2 separate regions of the Homo sapiens genome follow, and region 1 is linked to region 2. Evidence: fine-mapped expression QTL. A gene starts in region 2. The other region holds a variant in brackets. All regions are shown on one strand. Distances are from middle to middle.

The links. PIP is the estimated chance that this variant, and not a neighbour inherited with it, causes the effect.
Region 1: its variant is the best candidate, but not a certain one, in a credible set for the expression of KLRF2 in unexposed skin (GTEx, PIP 0.74).

What each region holds. Positions count from the first base shown.
Region 1 is chr12:9,919,380-9,923,784 of GRCh38, reverse strand. It overlaps CLEC2A (C-type lectin domain family 2 member A), which reads left to right. Exons shown (of 5, transcript NM_001130711.2): 3 at 1,553-1,719. Among named protein-coding and RNA genes, the nearest start is that of CLEC2A, 11 kb to the left of the region's middle. The variant G/A (reference allele first, on the strand shown) is at 2,570.
Region 2 is chr12:9,879,674-9,884,078 of GRCh38, reverse strand. It overlaps KLRF2 (killer cell lectin like receptor F2), which reads right to left and starts at 2,590. Exons shown (of 6, transcript NM_001190765.1): 1 at 2,414-2,590. The coding sequence starts at 2,483. It also overlaps a transcript of CLEC2A not described here.

The sequences.
Region 1 (4,405 bases), 40 kb before region 2:
ATGTCCCTACAAAGGACATGAACTCATCCTTTTTTAAGGCTGCATAGTATTCCATGGTGTATATGTGCCACATTTTCTTAATCCAGTCTATCATTGATGGGCACTTGGTTTGGTTCCAAGTCTTTGCTATTGTGAATAGTGCCACAATAAACATACGTGTGTATGTGTCTTTATAGCAGCATGATTTATAATCCTTCGGGTATATACCCAGTAATGGAATGGCTGGGTCAAATGGTATTTCTAGTTCTAGATCCCTGAGGAATCGCCACACTGTCTTCCACAATGGTTGAACTAGTTTACAGTCCCACCAACAGTGTAAAAGTATTCCTATTTCTCCACATCCTCTCCAGCACCTGTTGTTTCCTGACTTTTTAATGATCACCATTCTAACTGGTGCGAGATGATATCTCATTGTGGTTTTGATTTGCATTTCTTTGATGGCCAGTGATGATGAGCGTTTTTTCCTGTGTCTGTTGGCTGCGTAAATGTCTTCTTTGAGAAGTGTCTGTTCATATCCTTCACCCACTTTTTGATGGGATTGTTTTTTTCTTGTAAATTTGTTTAAGTTCTTTGTAGATTCTGGATATTAGTCCTTTGTCAAATGGATAGATTGCAAAATACCTAATGCATGCGGGGCTTCAAACCTAGAAGATGGGTTGATAGGTGCAGCAAGCCACCATGGCACATGTATACCAACGTCACAAACCTGCACACTCTGCAGATTTATCCCAGAACTTAAAGTTTAACAAAACAAAACACAACAAAAAGAGCACAGAGACAGAGTTGAAACACATTATATCTTACACCCTGTGTAGTAGCCTGTATCCACTTCTGAGCACTACAAAATAATAATAATAATAATAAATCATGGTGGAGTAGGGGGTGCAGCCTTTGGAGTTTGCCCTACATTTGAGCATATAGTTGGCTCTTTATTACTTGCATTAATTTATTCAAACATGTGGAATGCATGGACTTGTCTTATTCTGAATACTTAGCACCTAAATAAAACCTTGAGACAGTAAATCTCCAAACAATGTGCTTTCATTATTATTCCATATTCTTCAGCACTGGATGTAAATGAAATGAAACAAAGGTTTCACTAATTCTTATGTTTCACTTATGTGTTGTCCTTTATGGCAAGTTTCACTTTCCTAGCTTGGGTGTTTTCATAGGTAAAGGAAAGCCTCCATTTCTTACCCTAACCTCGAAACCTAAATTACATGCAGATCTCCAGCACTCTACCTTGATTGCAGAATTTATAGCTACATTTTATGCATTGTTTTTGGCAGGATATTAATATAGATTATGAGAAGCTAGTGGTTCCATTTCTCAAAATAGAAGCCAGGGAAATAGAAAAAAGTATGCACTGCTTGATCACTAAATGATCTTCCTTACAGACAGGGGAAGTTAATTCATCCTCATTCTGGGGAGGGGGGAAGCTAACTTACGGGCCTCAAACTGTGGAAGCAAAAAGTAAAATTAATACACCTGAATGAGTAGAAACACTTTTTAACATATGCTTTATCTGATCATTTCTTTCTTTTTTTTTCAGCCACATGGTCCAAGCATGCTAAACCTGTGGCATGTTCAGGGGACTGGCTTGGAGTGAGAGATAAGTGTTTCTATTTTTCTGATGATACCAGAAATTGGACAGCCAGTAAAATATTTTGTAGTTTGCAGAAAGCAGAACTTGCTCAGATTGATACACAAGAAGACATGGTAAGAAAACAGAAAAGTCTTCAGTAATTTCAGAGATTGTTTGTATAAAAACATAATAAAACAATAATAGCTAATACTATAATACAATTGATCCTTGAACAACATGGGTTTGAACTGTGTGGGTTCACTTATACCTGGATTATTTTTCCTCTGCCACCCTTGAGACAGCAAGAGCAAACCCTCCTCTTCTTCCCCCTCCTCAGCCTACTCAATATGAAAACAACGAGGATGAAGACTTTTACGATGTCTTCACTTCCACTTAATGAATAGTAAATAGATTTTCTCTTTCTTGTGATTTTCTTAATAACATCTTCTTTTCTCTAGCTTCCTTTATGGTAATAATACAGCATATAATTCAAATAACATGAAAATATATGTTAATTTACTTTTATGTTACCAGTAAGACTTCCAGTCAACAGCAGGCTACTAGTGGCTAAGTTTTCTGTTTTTGTTTTTTGTTTGTTTGTTTGTTTGTTTTTAAGACAGAGTCTCACTCTGGCACCTAGGCTGGAGTGCAGTGGTGCAATCTCAGCTCACTGTAGCCTTGAATTCCTGGGATCAAGCAATCCTCCCACCTTAGCCTCCTGAGTAGCTGGGACTACAGGTGCAGACCACCACTCCTGGCTAATTTTGTTTATTTTTTGTAGAGATGAGGTCTCACTATGTTGTCCAGGCTGGTCTCAAACTGAGATCAAGCAATTCTACTGCCTCAGCCTCCCAAAGTGCTAGAATTAGCATGAGATACCATAAACAGCATGGTTAACTTTTTGAGGAGTCAAAAGTTATATACAGACTTTTGACTGCACAGGCGGTCAGTGCCCCTAACTGCCACATTGTTTGAGTCAACTGT[G/A]TATGACAATGTGTGCTCAACAGTGTTCTAAGCACTGAAACTATATAATCTCATGTAATCTTCTACTAACACCCATGAAGGAGTTATATAACTCTCCCTACTTTAAAGATGAGGAAAGTCAGTCACAGAAATGTTATGTAACCCAGCCAATGACACAGCCATAAGTTGTTGGGCTGGGATTTGAACCCAGGCAAGATGACTAGTGATGCCATGTCCTTTACCACAATGCATACTGTTTATGTATCTAAATGTCTTCGTTAAATGTTCTTAGATTATTAAGTAGATTTTTTAAACCCTTTTCAATTTGCATTCTACCAAGCATAGACAGAAAAAATTTTTAAAAATACAGCTCTTAGAATTTAGAGACAAGGAAATGAAGGAAATATGTGCACTTCGAAGACGCGAGTGAATTAATGGAAGTAAAGAGGGCAAAGAAGGAGACACGTGGACTCTAGGGACACAGAGTAAGAAAATAGATTAGTTTTTAAAGAAAAGCTGGGGGTTGGAGAGTGGCCAAGATGGCCGACTAGAAGTAGCTGGAGTGCGCAGCTCTCAAAGAGAGGAACTGAAGGGGTGAGTAAATACAGCACTTTGAACTGAAACATCCAGGGTACACGCAATGGAACTAATCAAGGAAACAACTCAACCCATAGACAATGAAGAAAAGCAAGGCAGGTCGATGGCCAACCTGGGAACGACATGGAGCCAGGGGAACTCCCCTCGCCCAGGGAAGTGGTGAGTGAATGTGCAACCCCTGGAACCCATGCTGCTCCCATGGATCTTTGCAACCCTCGGGTCAGGAGATCCCCTTGTAAACCAACTCCACCGGGGCCTTCAGTCTGACACACAGAGCTAAGTGGAGCTTCAAAAGAGCAGCCTCTCAGGCATGTGCAGTGACCCGGGAGCCTCAGATAGCCAGGAGTTCCAGGCTTCCCAGCAAAAGTAGTTGAAACTCCAGCGAAGAGGGAGGTTAGACCCCCTTACACATCCCTAGTAAAGGGGCTGAATCCAGGAGGCTGAGCAGCGACATTCTGCAGGACCCACTTCCATGGCATCTCACAGGATAGGACCCACTGGCTTGGAGTTCTAGCCAGCCATCAATAACAGCATTGCACCTCCCTGAAACAGCTCCCAGAGGGAGATGTGGGCAGCCATCTTTGCTGTTTGGGTGACTTAGCCATCCAGCCTTCAGGCTTTGGAGAGTCCAAGTTGACCAGGGGTGGAAGTGGTCCCCCAGCACGGCACAGCTGCTCTACAAAAAAGTGGCCAGACTGCCCTTGTAAGTGGGTACCCAATCCCATTCCTCCTCACTGGGCAGGATCTCTAACCAGGGTCTTTAGCTGCCTCCTACAGGTGTTCTTGGGCCGGTAATAGCTATGTACCTCCCTGGCACAGAGCTCACAGAGGGAGGGGCAGGCCACCTTCTTTGCTGTTTTGTAGGCTTCACTGTTGGTACCTACAGGTATCAGAAAATCCGAGGTAAATAGGGACTGGAGATGGCCACCAGCATACCACAGCAGCCCTATGATAAAGTGGCCAGACTGTTACATGAGTGCCCATCTCCTTGTCTCCTCACCAGGAGGGTCCTCCAGGCCTGGGCCTCCAGCCCCCCTCGCAAGCGCTATTGAGCCAGTAGCAGCTCTGGAATGTCTTAGAGAGAGCCTCCAGGGGCAACAGGAAACCTCTCTGCCACTGCCTCTGCACTGGAACTGCCCTTGCTGCCCTCAGACTAATGAAGGAGCAAAGACCCTAAGTCTCTCATCCACACCTCCAACAAGTTGCAGGAGAGGAGGCCAGTCCATCTCCACAGGCTCTGCTCACCCACCTTGCTCATCA
Region 2 (4,405 bases):
GCAGACATCATATAATTAATATCTCAATCTACAATCATTTTAGTCAGTTTGCCAGGCTAGTGGCCAAAGAGAAAGCAAAGTAATTTGAGATACTCTGATAATTATTCCCTATTTTTTATTCTTTTATCTATAAACAAACATTTAATTTCATCACCTTGGTTGTACATTTCACAAATAATTTGTCTTCTAAGTCATAATAAAAGTGCTGTTTCTCAAATCTAATTTCTGTGTGGATGCTTTACTTCAATAGGTTTTATGGATTTACTGCATTTGATTAGATCTATAGTATATACTTAGAGAATTTACTGTATGTAGTGTACCTTTTGAAATTTGCTACTCAATTGTCTGTATTACTAAGTCCAAAATAATTTTCTTTCTTTTTCTTCCCTGTAGATATTTCTGCTGTTCAAGCAAATATGGAAAGACTTCTACTTAATTGAAAATCGTCAAAATACATTTCTGCAATTTTATGAGAAAATATCAATCAAGGGTATATGGATCTGTAGTTAACAAGTGCTCTTTCCATACATGCCAGGGAGGGAGACTTTAAACTTCTTGCCAAATAAGATTTATAAAAAACTGAACAATAGACCAAAAATTAATATTTTCATGTAAGCCATGATTTACATACTATATCAAGCCAGGTGAACAGAGAGCTGAGTACATGAAGTGCAGTATGCTGGCCTATCCTAGCACTGCTTGGCTAGATGCCATTGGCTTACACAGGGCTATATGAAGAAATTGTCTTACAAAATCTGCTGGTGCTACTATTGCAAGAACACTAATTGTATTATTTTATGTGCTTCATGAGAACTCAGGAAAATATTTTTTCTGATTTAGGATCAAGATTAATTATATCAATCTTAAGGAATAGGTGTAACTTTATCTTATACACAATGTGAACTGAACAACTGGTAAGAATTCCCTTAGGTCAGTAATAACAAGGAAGCTTGGAAGCAAATGTATAGCAAGCACAAACATGCCTACAGTAATTTTTCTGGCCCAATTTATTTTCCCAGCCCTATCCTTCCTTCATTCATAATTTAAATGGATATTATCTTATATTTTATGTATCAATACTCAGATTTTAAGTCTCTGTACACATTTGTATATTAAAAAGTAGTTTATAGATTAAAAAATAGTAAATTTAGTTTAACATCCACATAAAAGCATCATCAGGTAGATTTTTCTTATTATATATCAAAGTATTGAGATTTAAGAAGGCTAAAAGCTTCTGCCCAGAGCCATACATTTAGTCTGTGGGCTTTAGGGTCTGAATAATTTTTTTTGTTTTTTTATATATGGAGTCTTGCTCTGTCACTCAGGCTGGAGTGCAGTGGCATGATCTCAGCTGACTGCAACCTCCGTCTCCCGGGTTCAAGCGATTCTCCTGCCTCAGCCTCCCAAGTAGTTGGGATTACAGGCACACGCCACCATACCCAGCTAATTTTTTTTGTATTTTTAGTAGAGACGGGGTTTCACCATGTTGGCCAGGCTGGTCTCGAATTCCTGACCTCAGGTGACCCGCCCACCTCTGCATCCCAAAGTGCTGGGATTACAGGCATGAGCCACCGTGCCTGGTCTGCCTCAGTCAATTTAACACCAATGGTACTAGTTTTTGCTGCATGGAAGTAAGTTACTATTGAAAAAGTAAACATTTGTTTCATGATATTGAAACACAAAAAAGATCTGAGTCTTCAGATAATAACAAAAGTGTCATTTTGTGGGGGCAGGGGGTGCAGGGGAAGTTTGCATTTGCTAGATATAAAATGAGATTGTACACGAGAATGTTCAATACATATGGCAGAACTGCCACTGCGACTGGTAATTCTGAATTTCTGGCCTATGTCATCTTAACTTAGGTCTTGGCTATTTCAACAAGATTGTTTTCAAAATTCCTGAAAAAGCAAACAAAGCCAACCACAGAGCAGCCCTAAGGAGCAAAGATTAATGTTTTTTTGTTTTTTTTTCTCTCTTCTCGCATTCCCAGTAGATTGTTCTACCAATCCTATAGGGCTTTTACGAAGATTAAAAATATTATATATGTATAAGCATAAATATATATATAAGCATATATATACGCTTTAAGTTTATATAAACTTTAAGTTTTGTAGGAGGAAGTTTCTGTAAAAACACAATTTTTCAGCCTTTTCTTCGAAAGTGATGTTCTTATGCTACAACACACAGGATTACACATCGTCATATTCGCATTTCTCTTACCTCATGGCTCTGAAAATGCAGACTTTTTATTGTTGATGCTTTCATGAATCTAAATAATCTAACAGACAATTTATGACCATTTTTATATTCCTTATTATGATCAATGTTAAGATGTTAAAAATATTCTAAGATAATTCTCTTCCTAGAAGAATAATGAAATTTTAAATGCGGTGATGGGGAGCAGTATTCCTACCTTTAGATTTCTGCTTCGATTTACAACGATTCTTGAAACTCAGCGTCATATACCCATCTTCATTCTCCATCTCTTCAAATGTCTAATGTCTTATTATCCAGAAAATAGTACAAAGAAAATGGAAACTAATCTCAACCTTGGATATGTCTCTTTGGCACAAGGTACTAAAAGAAAACTAAAAGGAAGGCCAAAAATAGTCAAAATTTACTCAGACACAGATGTCTAAAACCACACAGGATGTGTTGGTAAATGAAAATGGATATAAGCTTGTTAATATCTGGCTACAATTCTGTGAATTTCAAGGTAAAGGTAGCTAGTGTGTTCCACTGTTTTCAACAAATGGACTTGTGTGTTCCTGCCACTTGTGTGCGGTGTATTAGAAACATAATTCCTTCCTTCATGTCTTTTATAATAAAGTAAGAGAAAAAATAAAATAAAACAAATAATCTCTAAACAAACAGAACAAATGTCTAGGTAAATAAAAATTCAAATTAAAAAAGTTAAAATAGCAATTTTGTTATTTGGGACATATTTGACTAGTAGAGTCCAAATAACGATGGTTAGATGGGACAAAAATAGGAAAATAAAAGATCAGCAAGTCTCAAGTTAGTGAAAATCGGAATCACTTGCAAAGAATTTAACTTTTTAAACTTTTTTGTTTGTTTGTTTGTTTTTCAGAAAACGCCAGGCAGATTTTCCTTCAGTAGGTGTGGCAGTTTATTTTGTGTCAACTTGGCTGAGTCACAGAGAGTCCAGATAGTTGATCAGACATCATTCTGCTTATTTCTGTGAGGGTGTTTTTGGATGGGATTCATATTTAAATAGGTGACCTTTGAGTAAGGCAGATTTGCCTCCTCTGTAATGTGACTGGGCCTTATTGAGTCAGTTGGAGCCTTGAATAGAACAAAAAGACTTGTCTTCCCTGAGTGAGAGAGAATTCTCCAGCAATGGCCTTCAGACTATCTGCAGCATTAGCTCCTCCTGATTCTACAGACGGTGGACTTTGCATTTGAATTGAGCCTTCCTAGGTACCCAGTCTGTCCATGCTCATTTGCAGAATTTTGACTTACCAGCCTCCATAATCACATTCCTTATTTTATATATATTTCACTTAACACGCACACACACACACACACACACACACATGCTAATGGTTCTGTTTCTGCTACGTGGCCACTCAATATCAATCCATTGATTTAACACCGAGTGTCTGGGGAAGGTGGCTGACTGTTTCCCACAGCACATGTTGTGTTCACCTGATTATTGAGTCTCCTCCTCAACACTGGATGTCACTTGTGAGTATTTACATGGGAATGAATATTTACACACGCCGCGTCCATTCTGCATGATCTCTATATGTACCTCTTAGCTTCTCATTCATTTTTCTATTTTGTTCTTTTTGAGTTTCCGACAAGTCATCTCACCTATTAGTTTCTGATAAGATGATTTAGATGTATTTCTCTGAGTGCTTATCCTTCCTGTTAGGTTCACAACCAGACATATTGTCCAAACTTCTGTTCAGTGGGAAGACTTACCTTCACTTCTGTCTTTCACAGTCTTCTCCTGAATGGGACTGTAGTGTGGCATCTATTCCAGCTGCCGTATTTTACATAACCACTGATAAACTTATTTTTTTCAACTACTTCAGTGTAAGATCGTACAGAACCCTCTTTTCCATCCCCAACCCGGGTCATAGGTATGGTTGAGGTGGAGATAGCAAAGGAATGCGAACATGTGCCATCGGAGTCTGAGCCATCTGCTCATGCAGTTTACTGTGCTTCTTTGGAACTGTTCAGGCCTTGCCTCCAAAATGGCACAATTATGTTTGTGATAAAATGCTTCTGTGCACTTCTAAACATAGGGTTCATTGGGTCAAAGTGGTCAAGTTGGATCAAGTTAATGGTGGTGAACATATGTCTTATAAAAATATGTAGTAGGTTTACTGCCTACTTTTCACCAGGAACAGTTGGCATGATAGCATCAATGTAATGA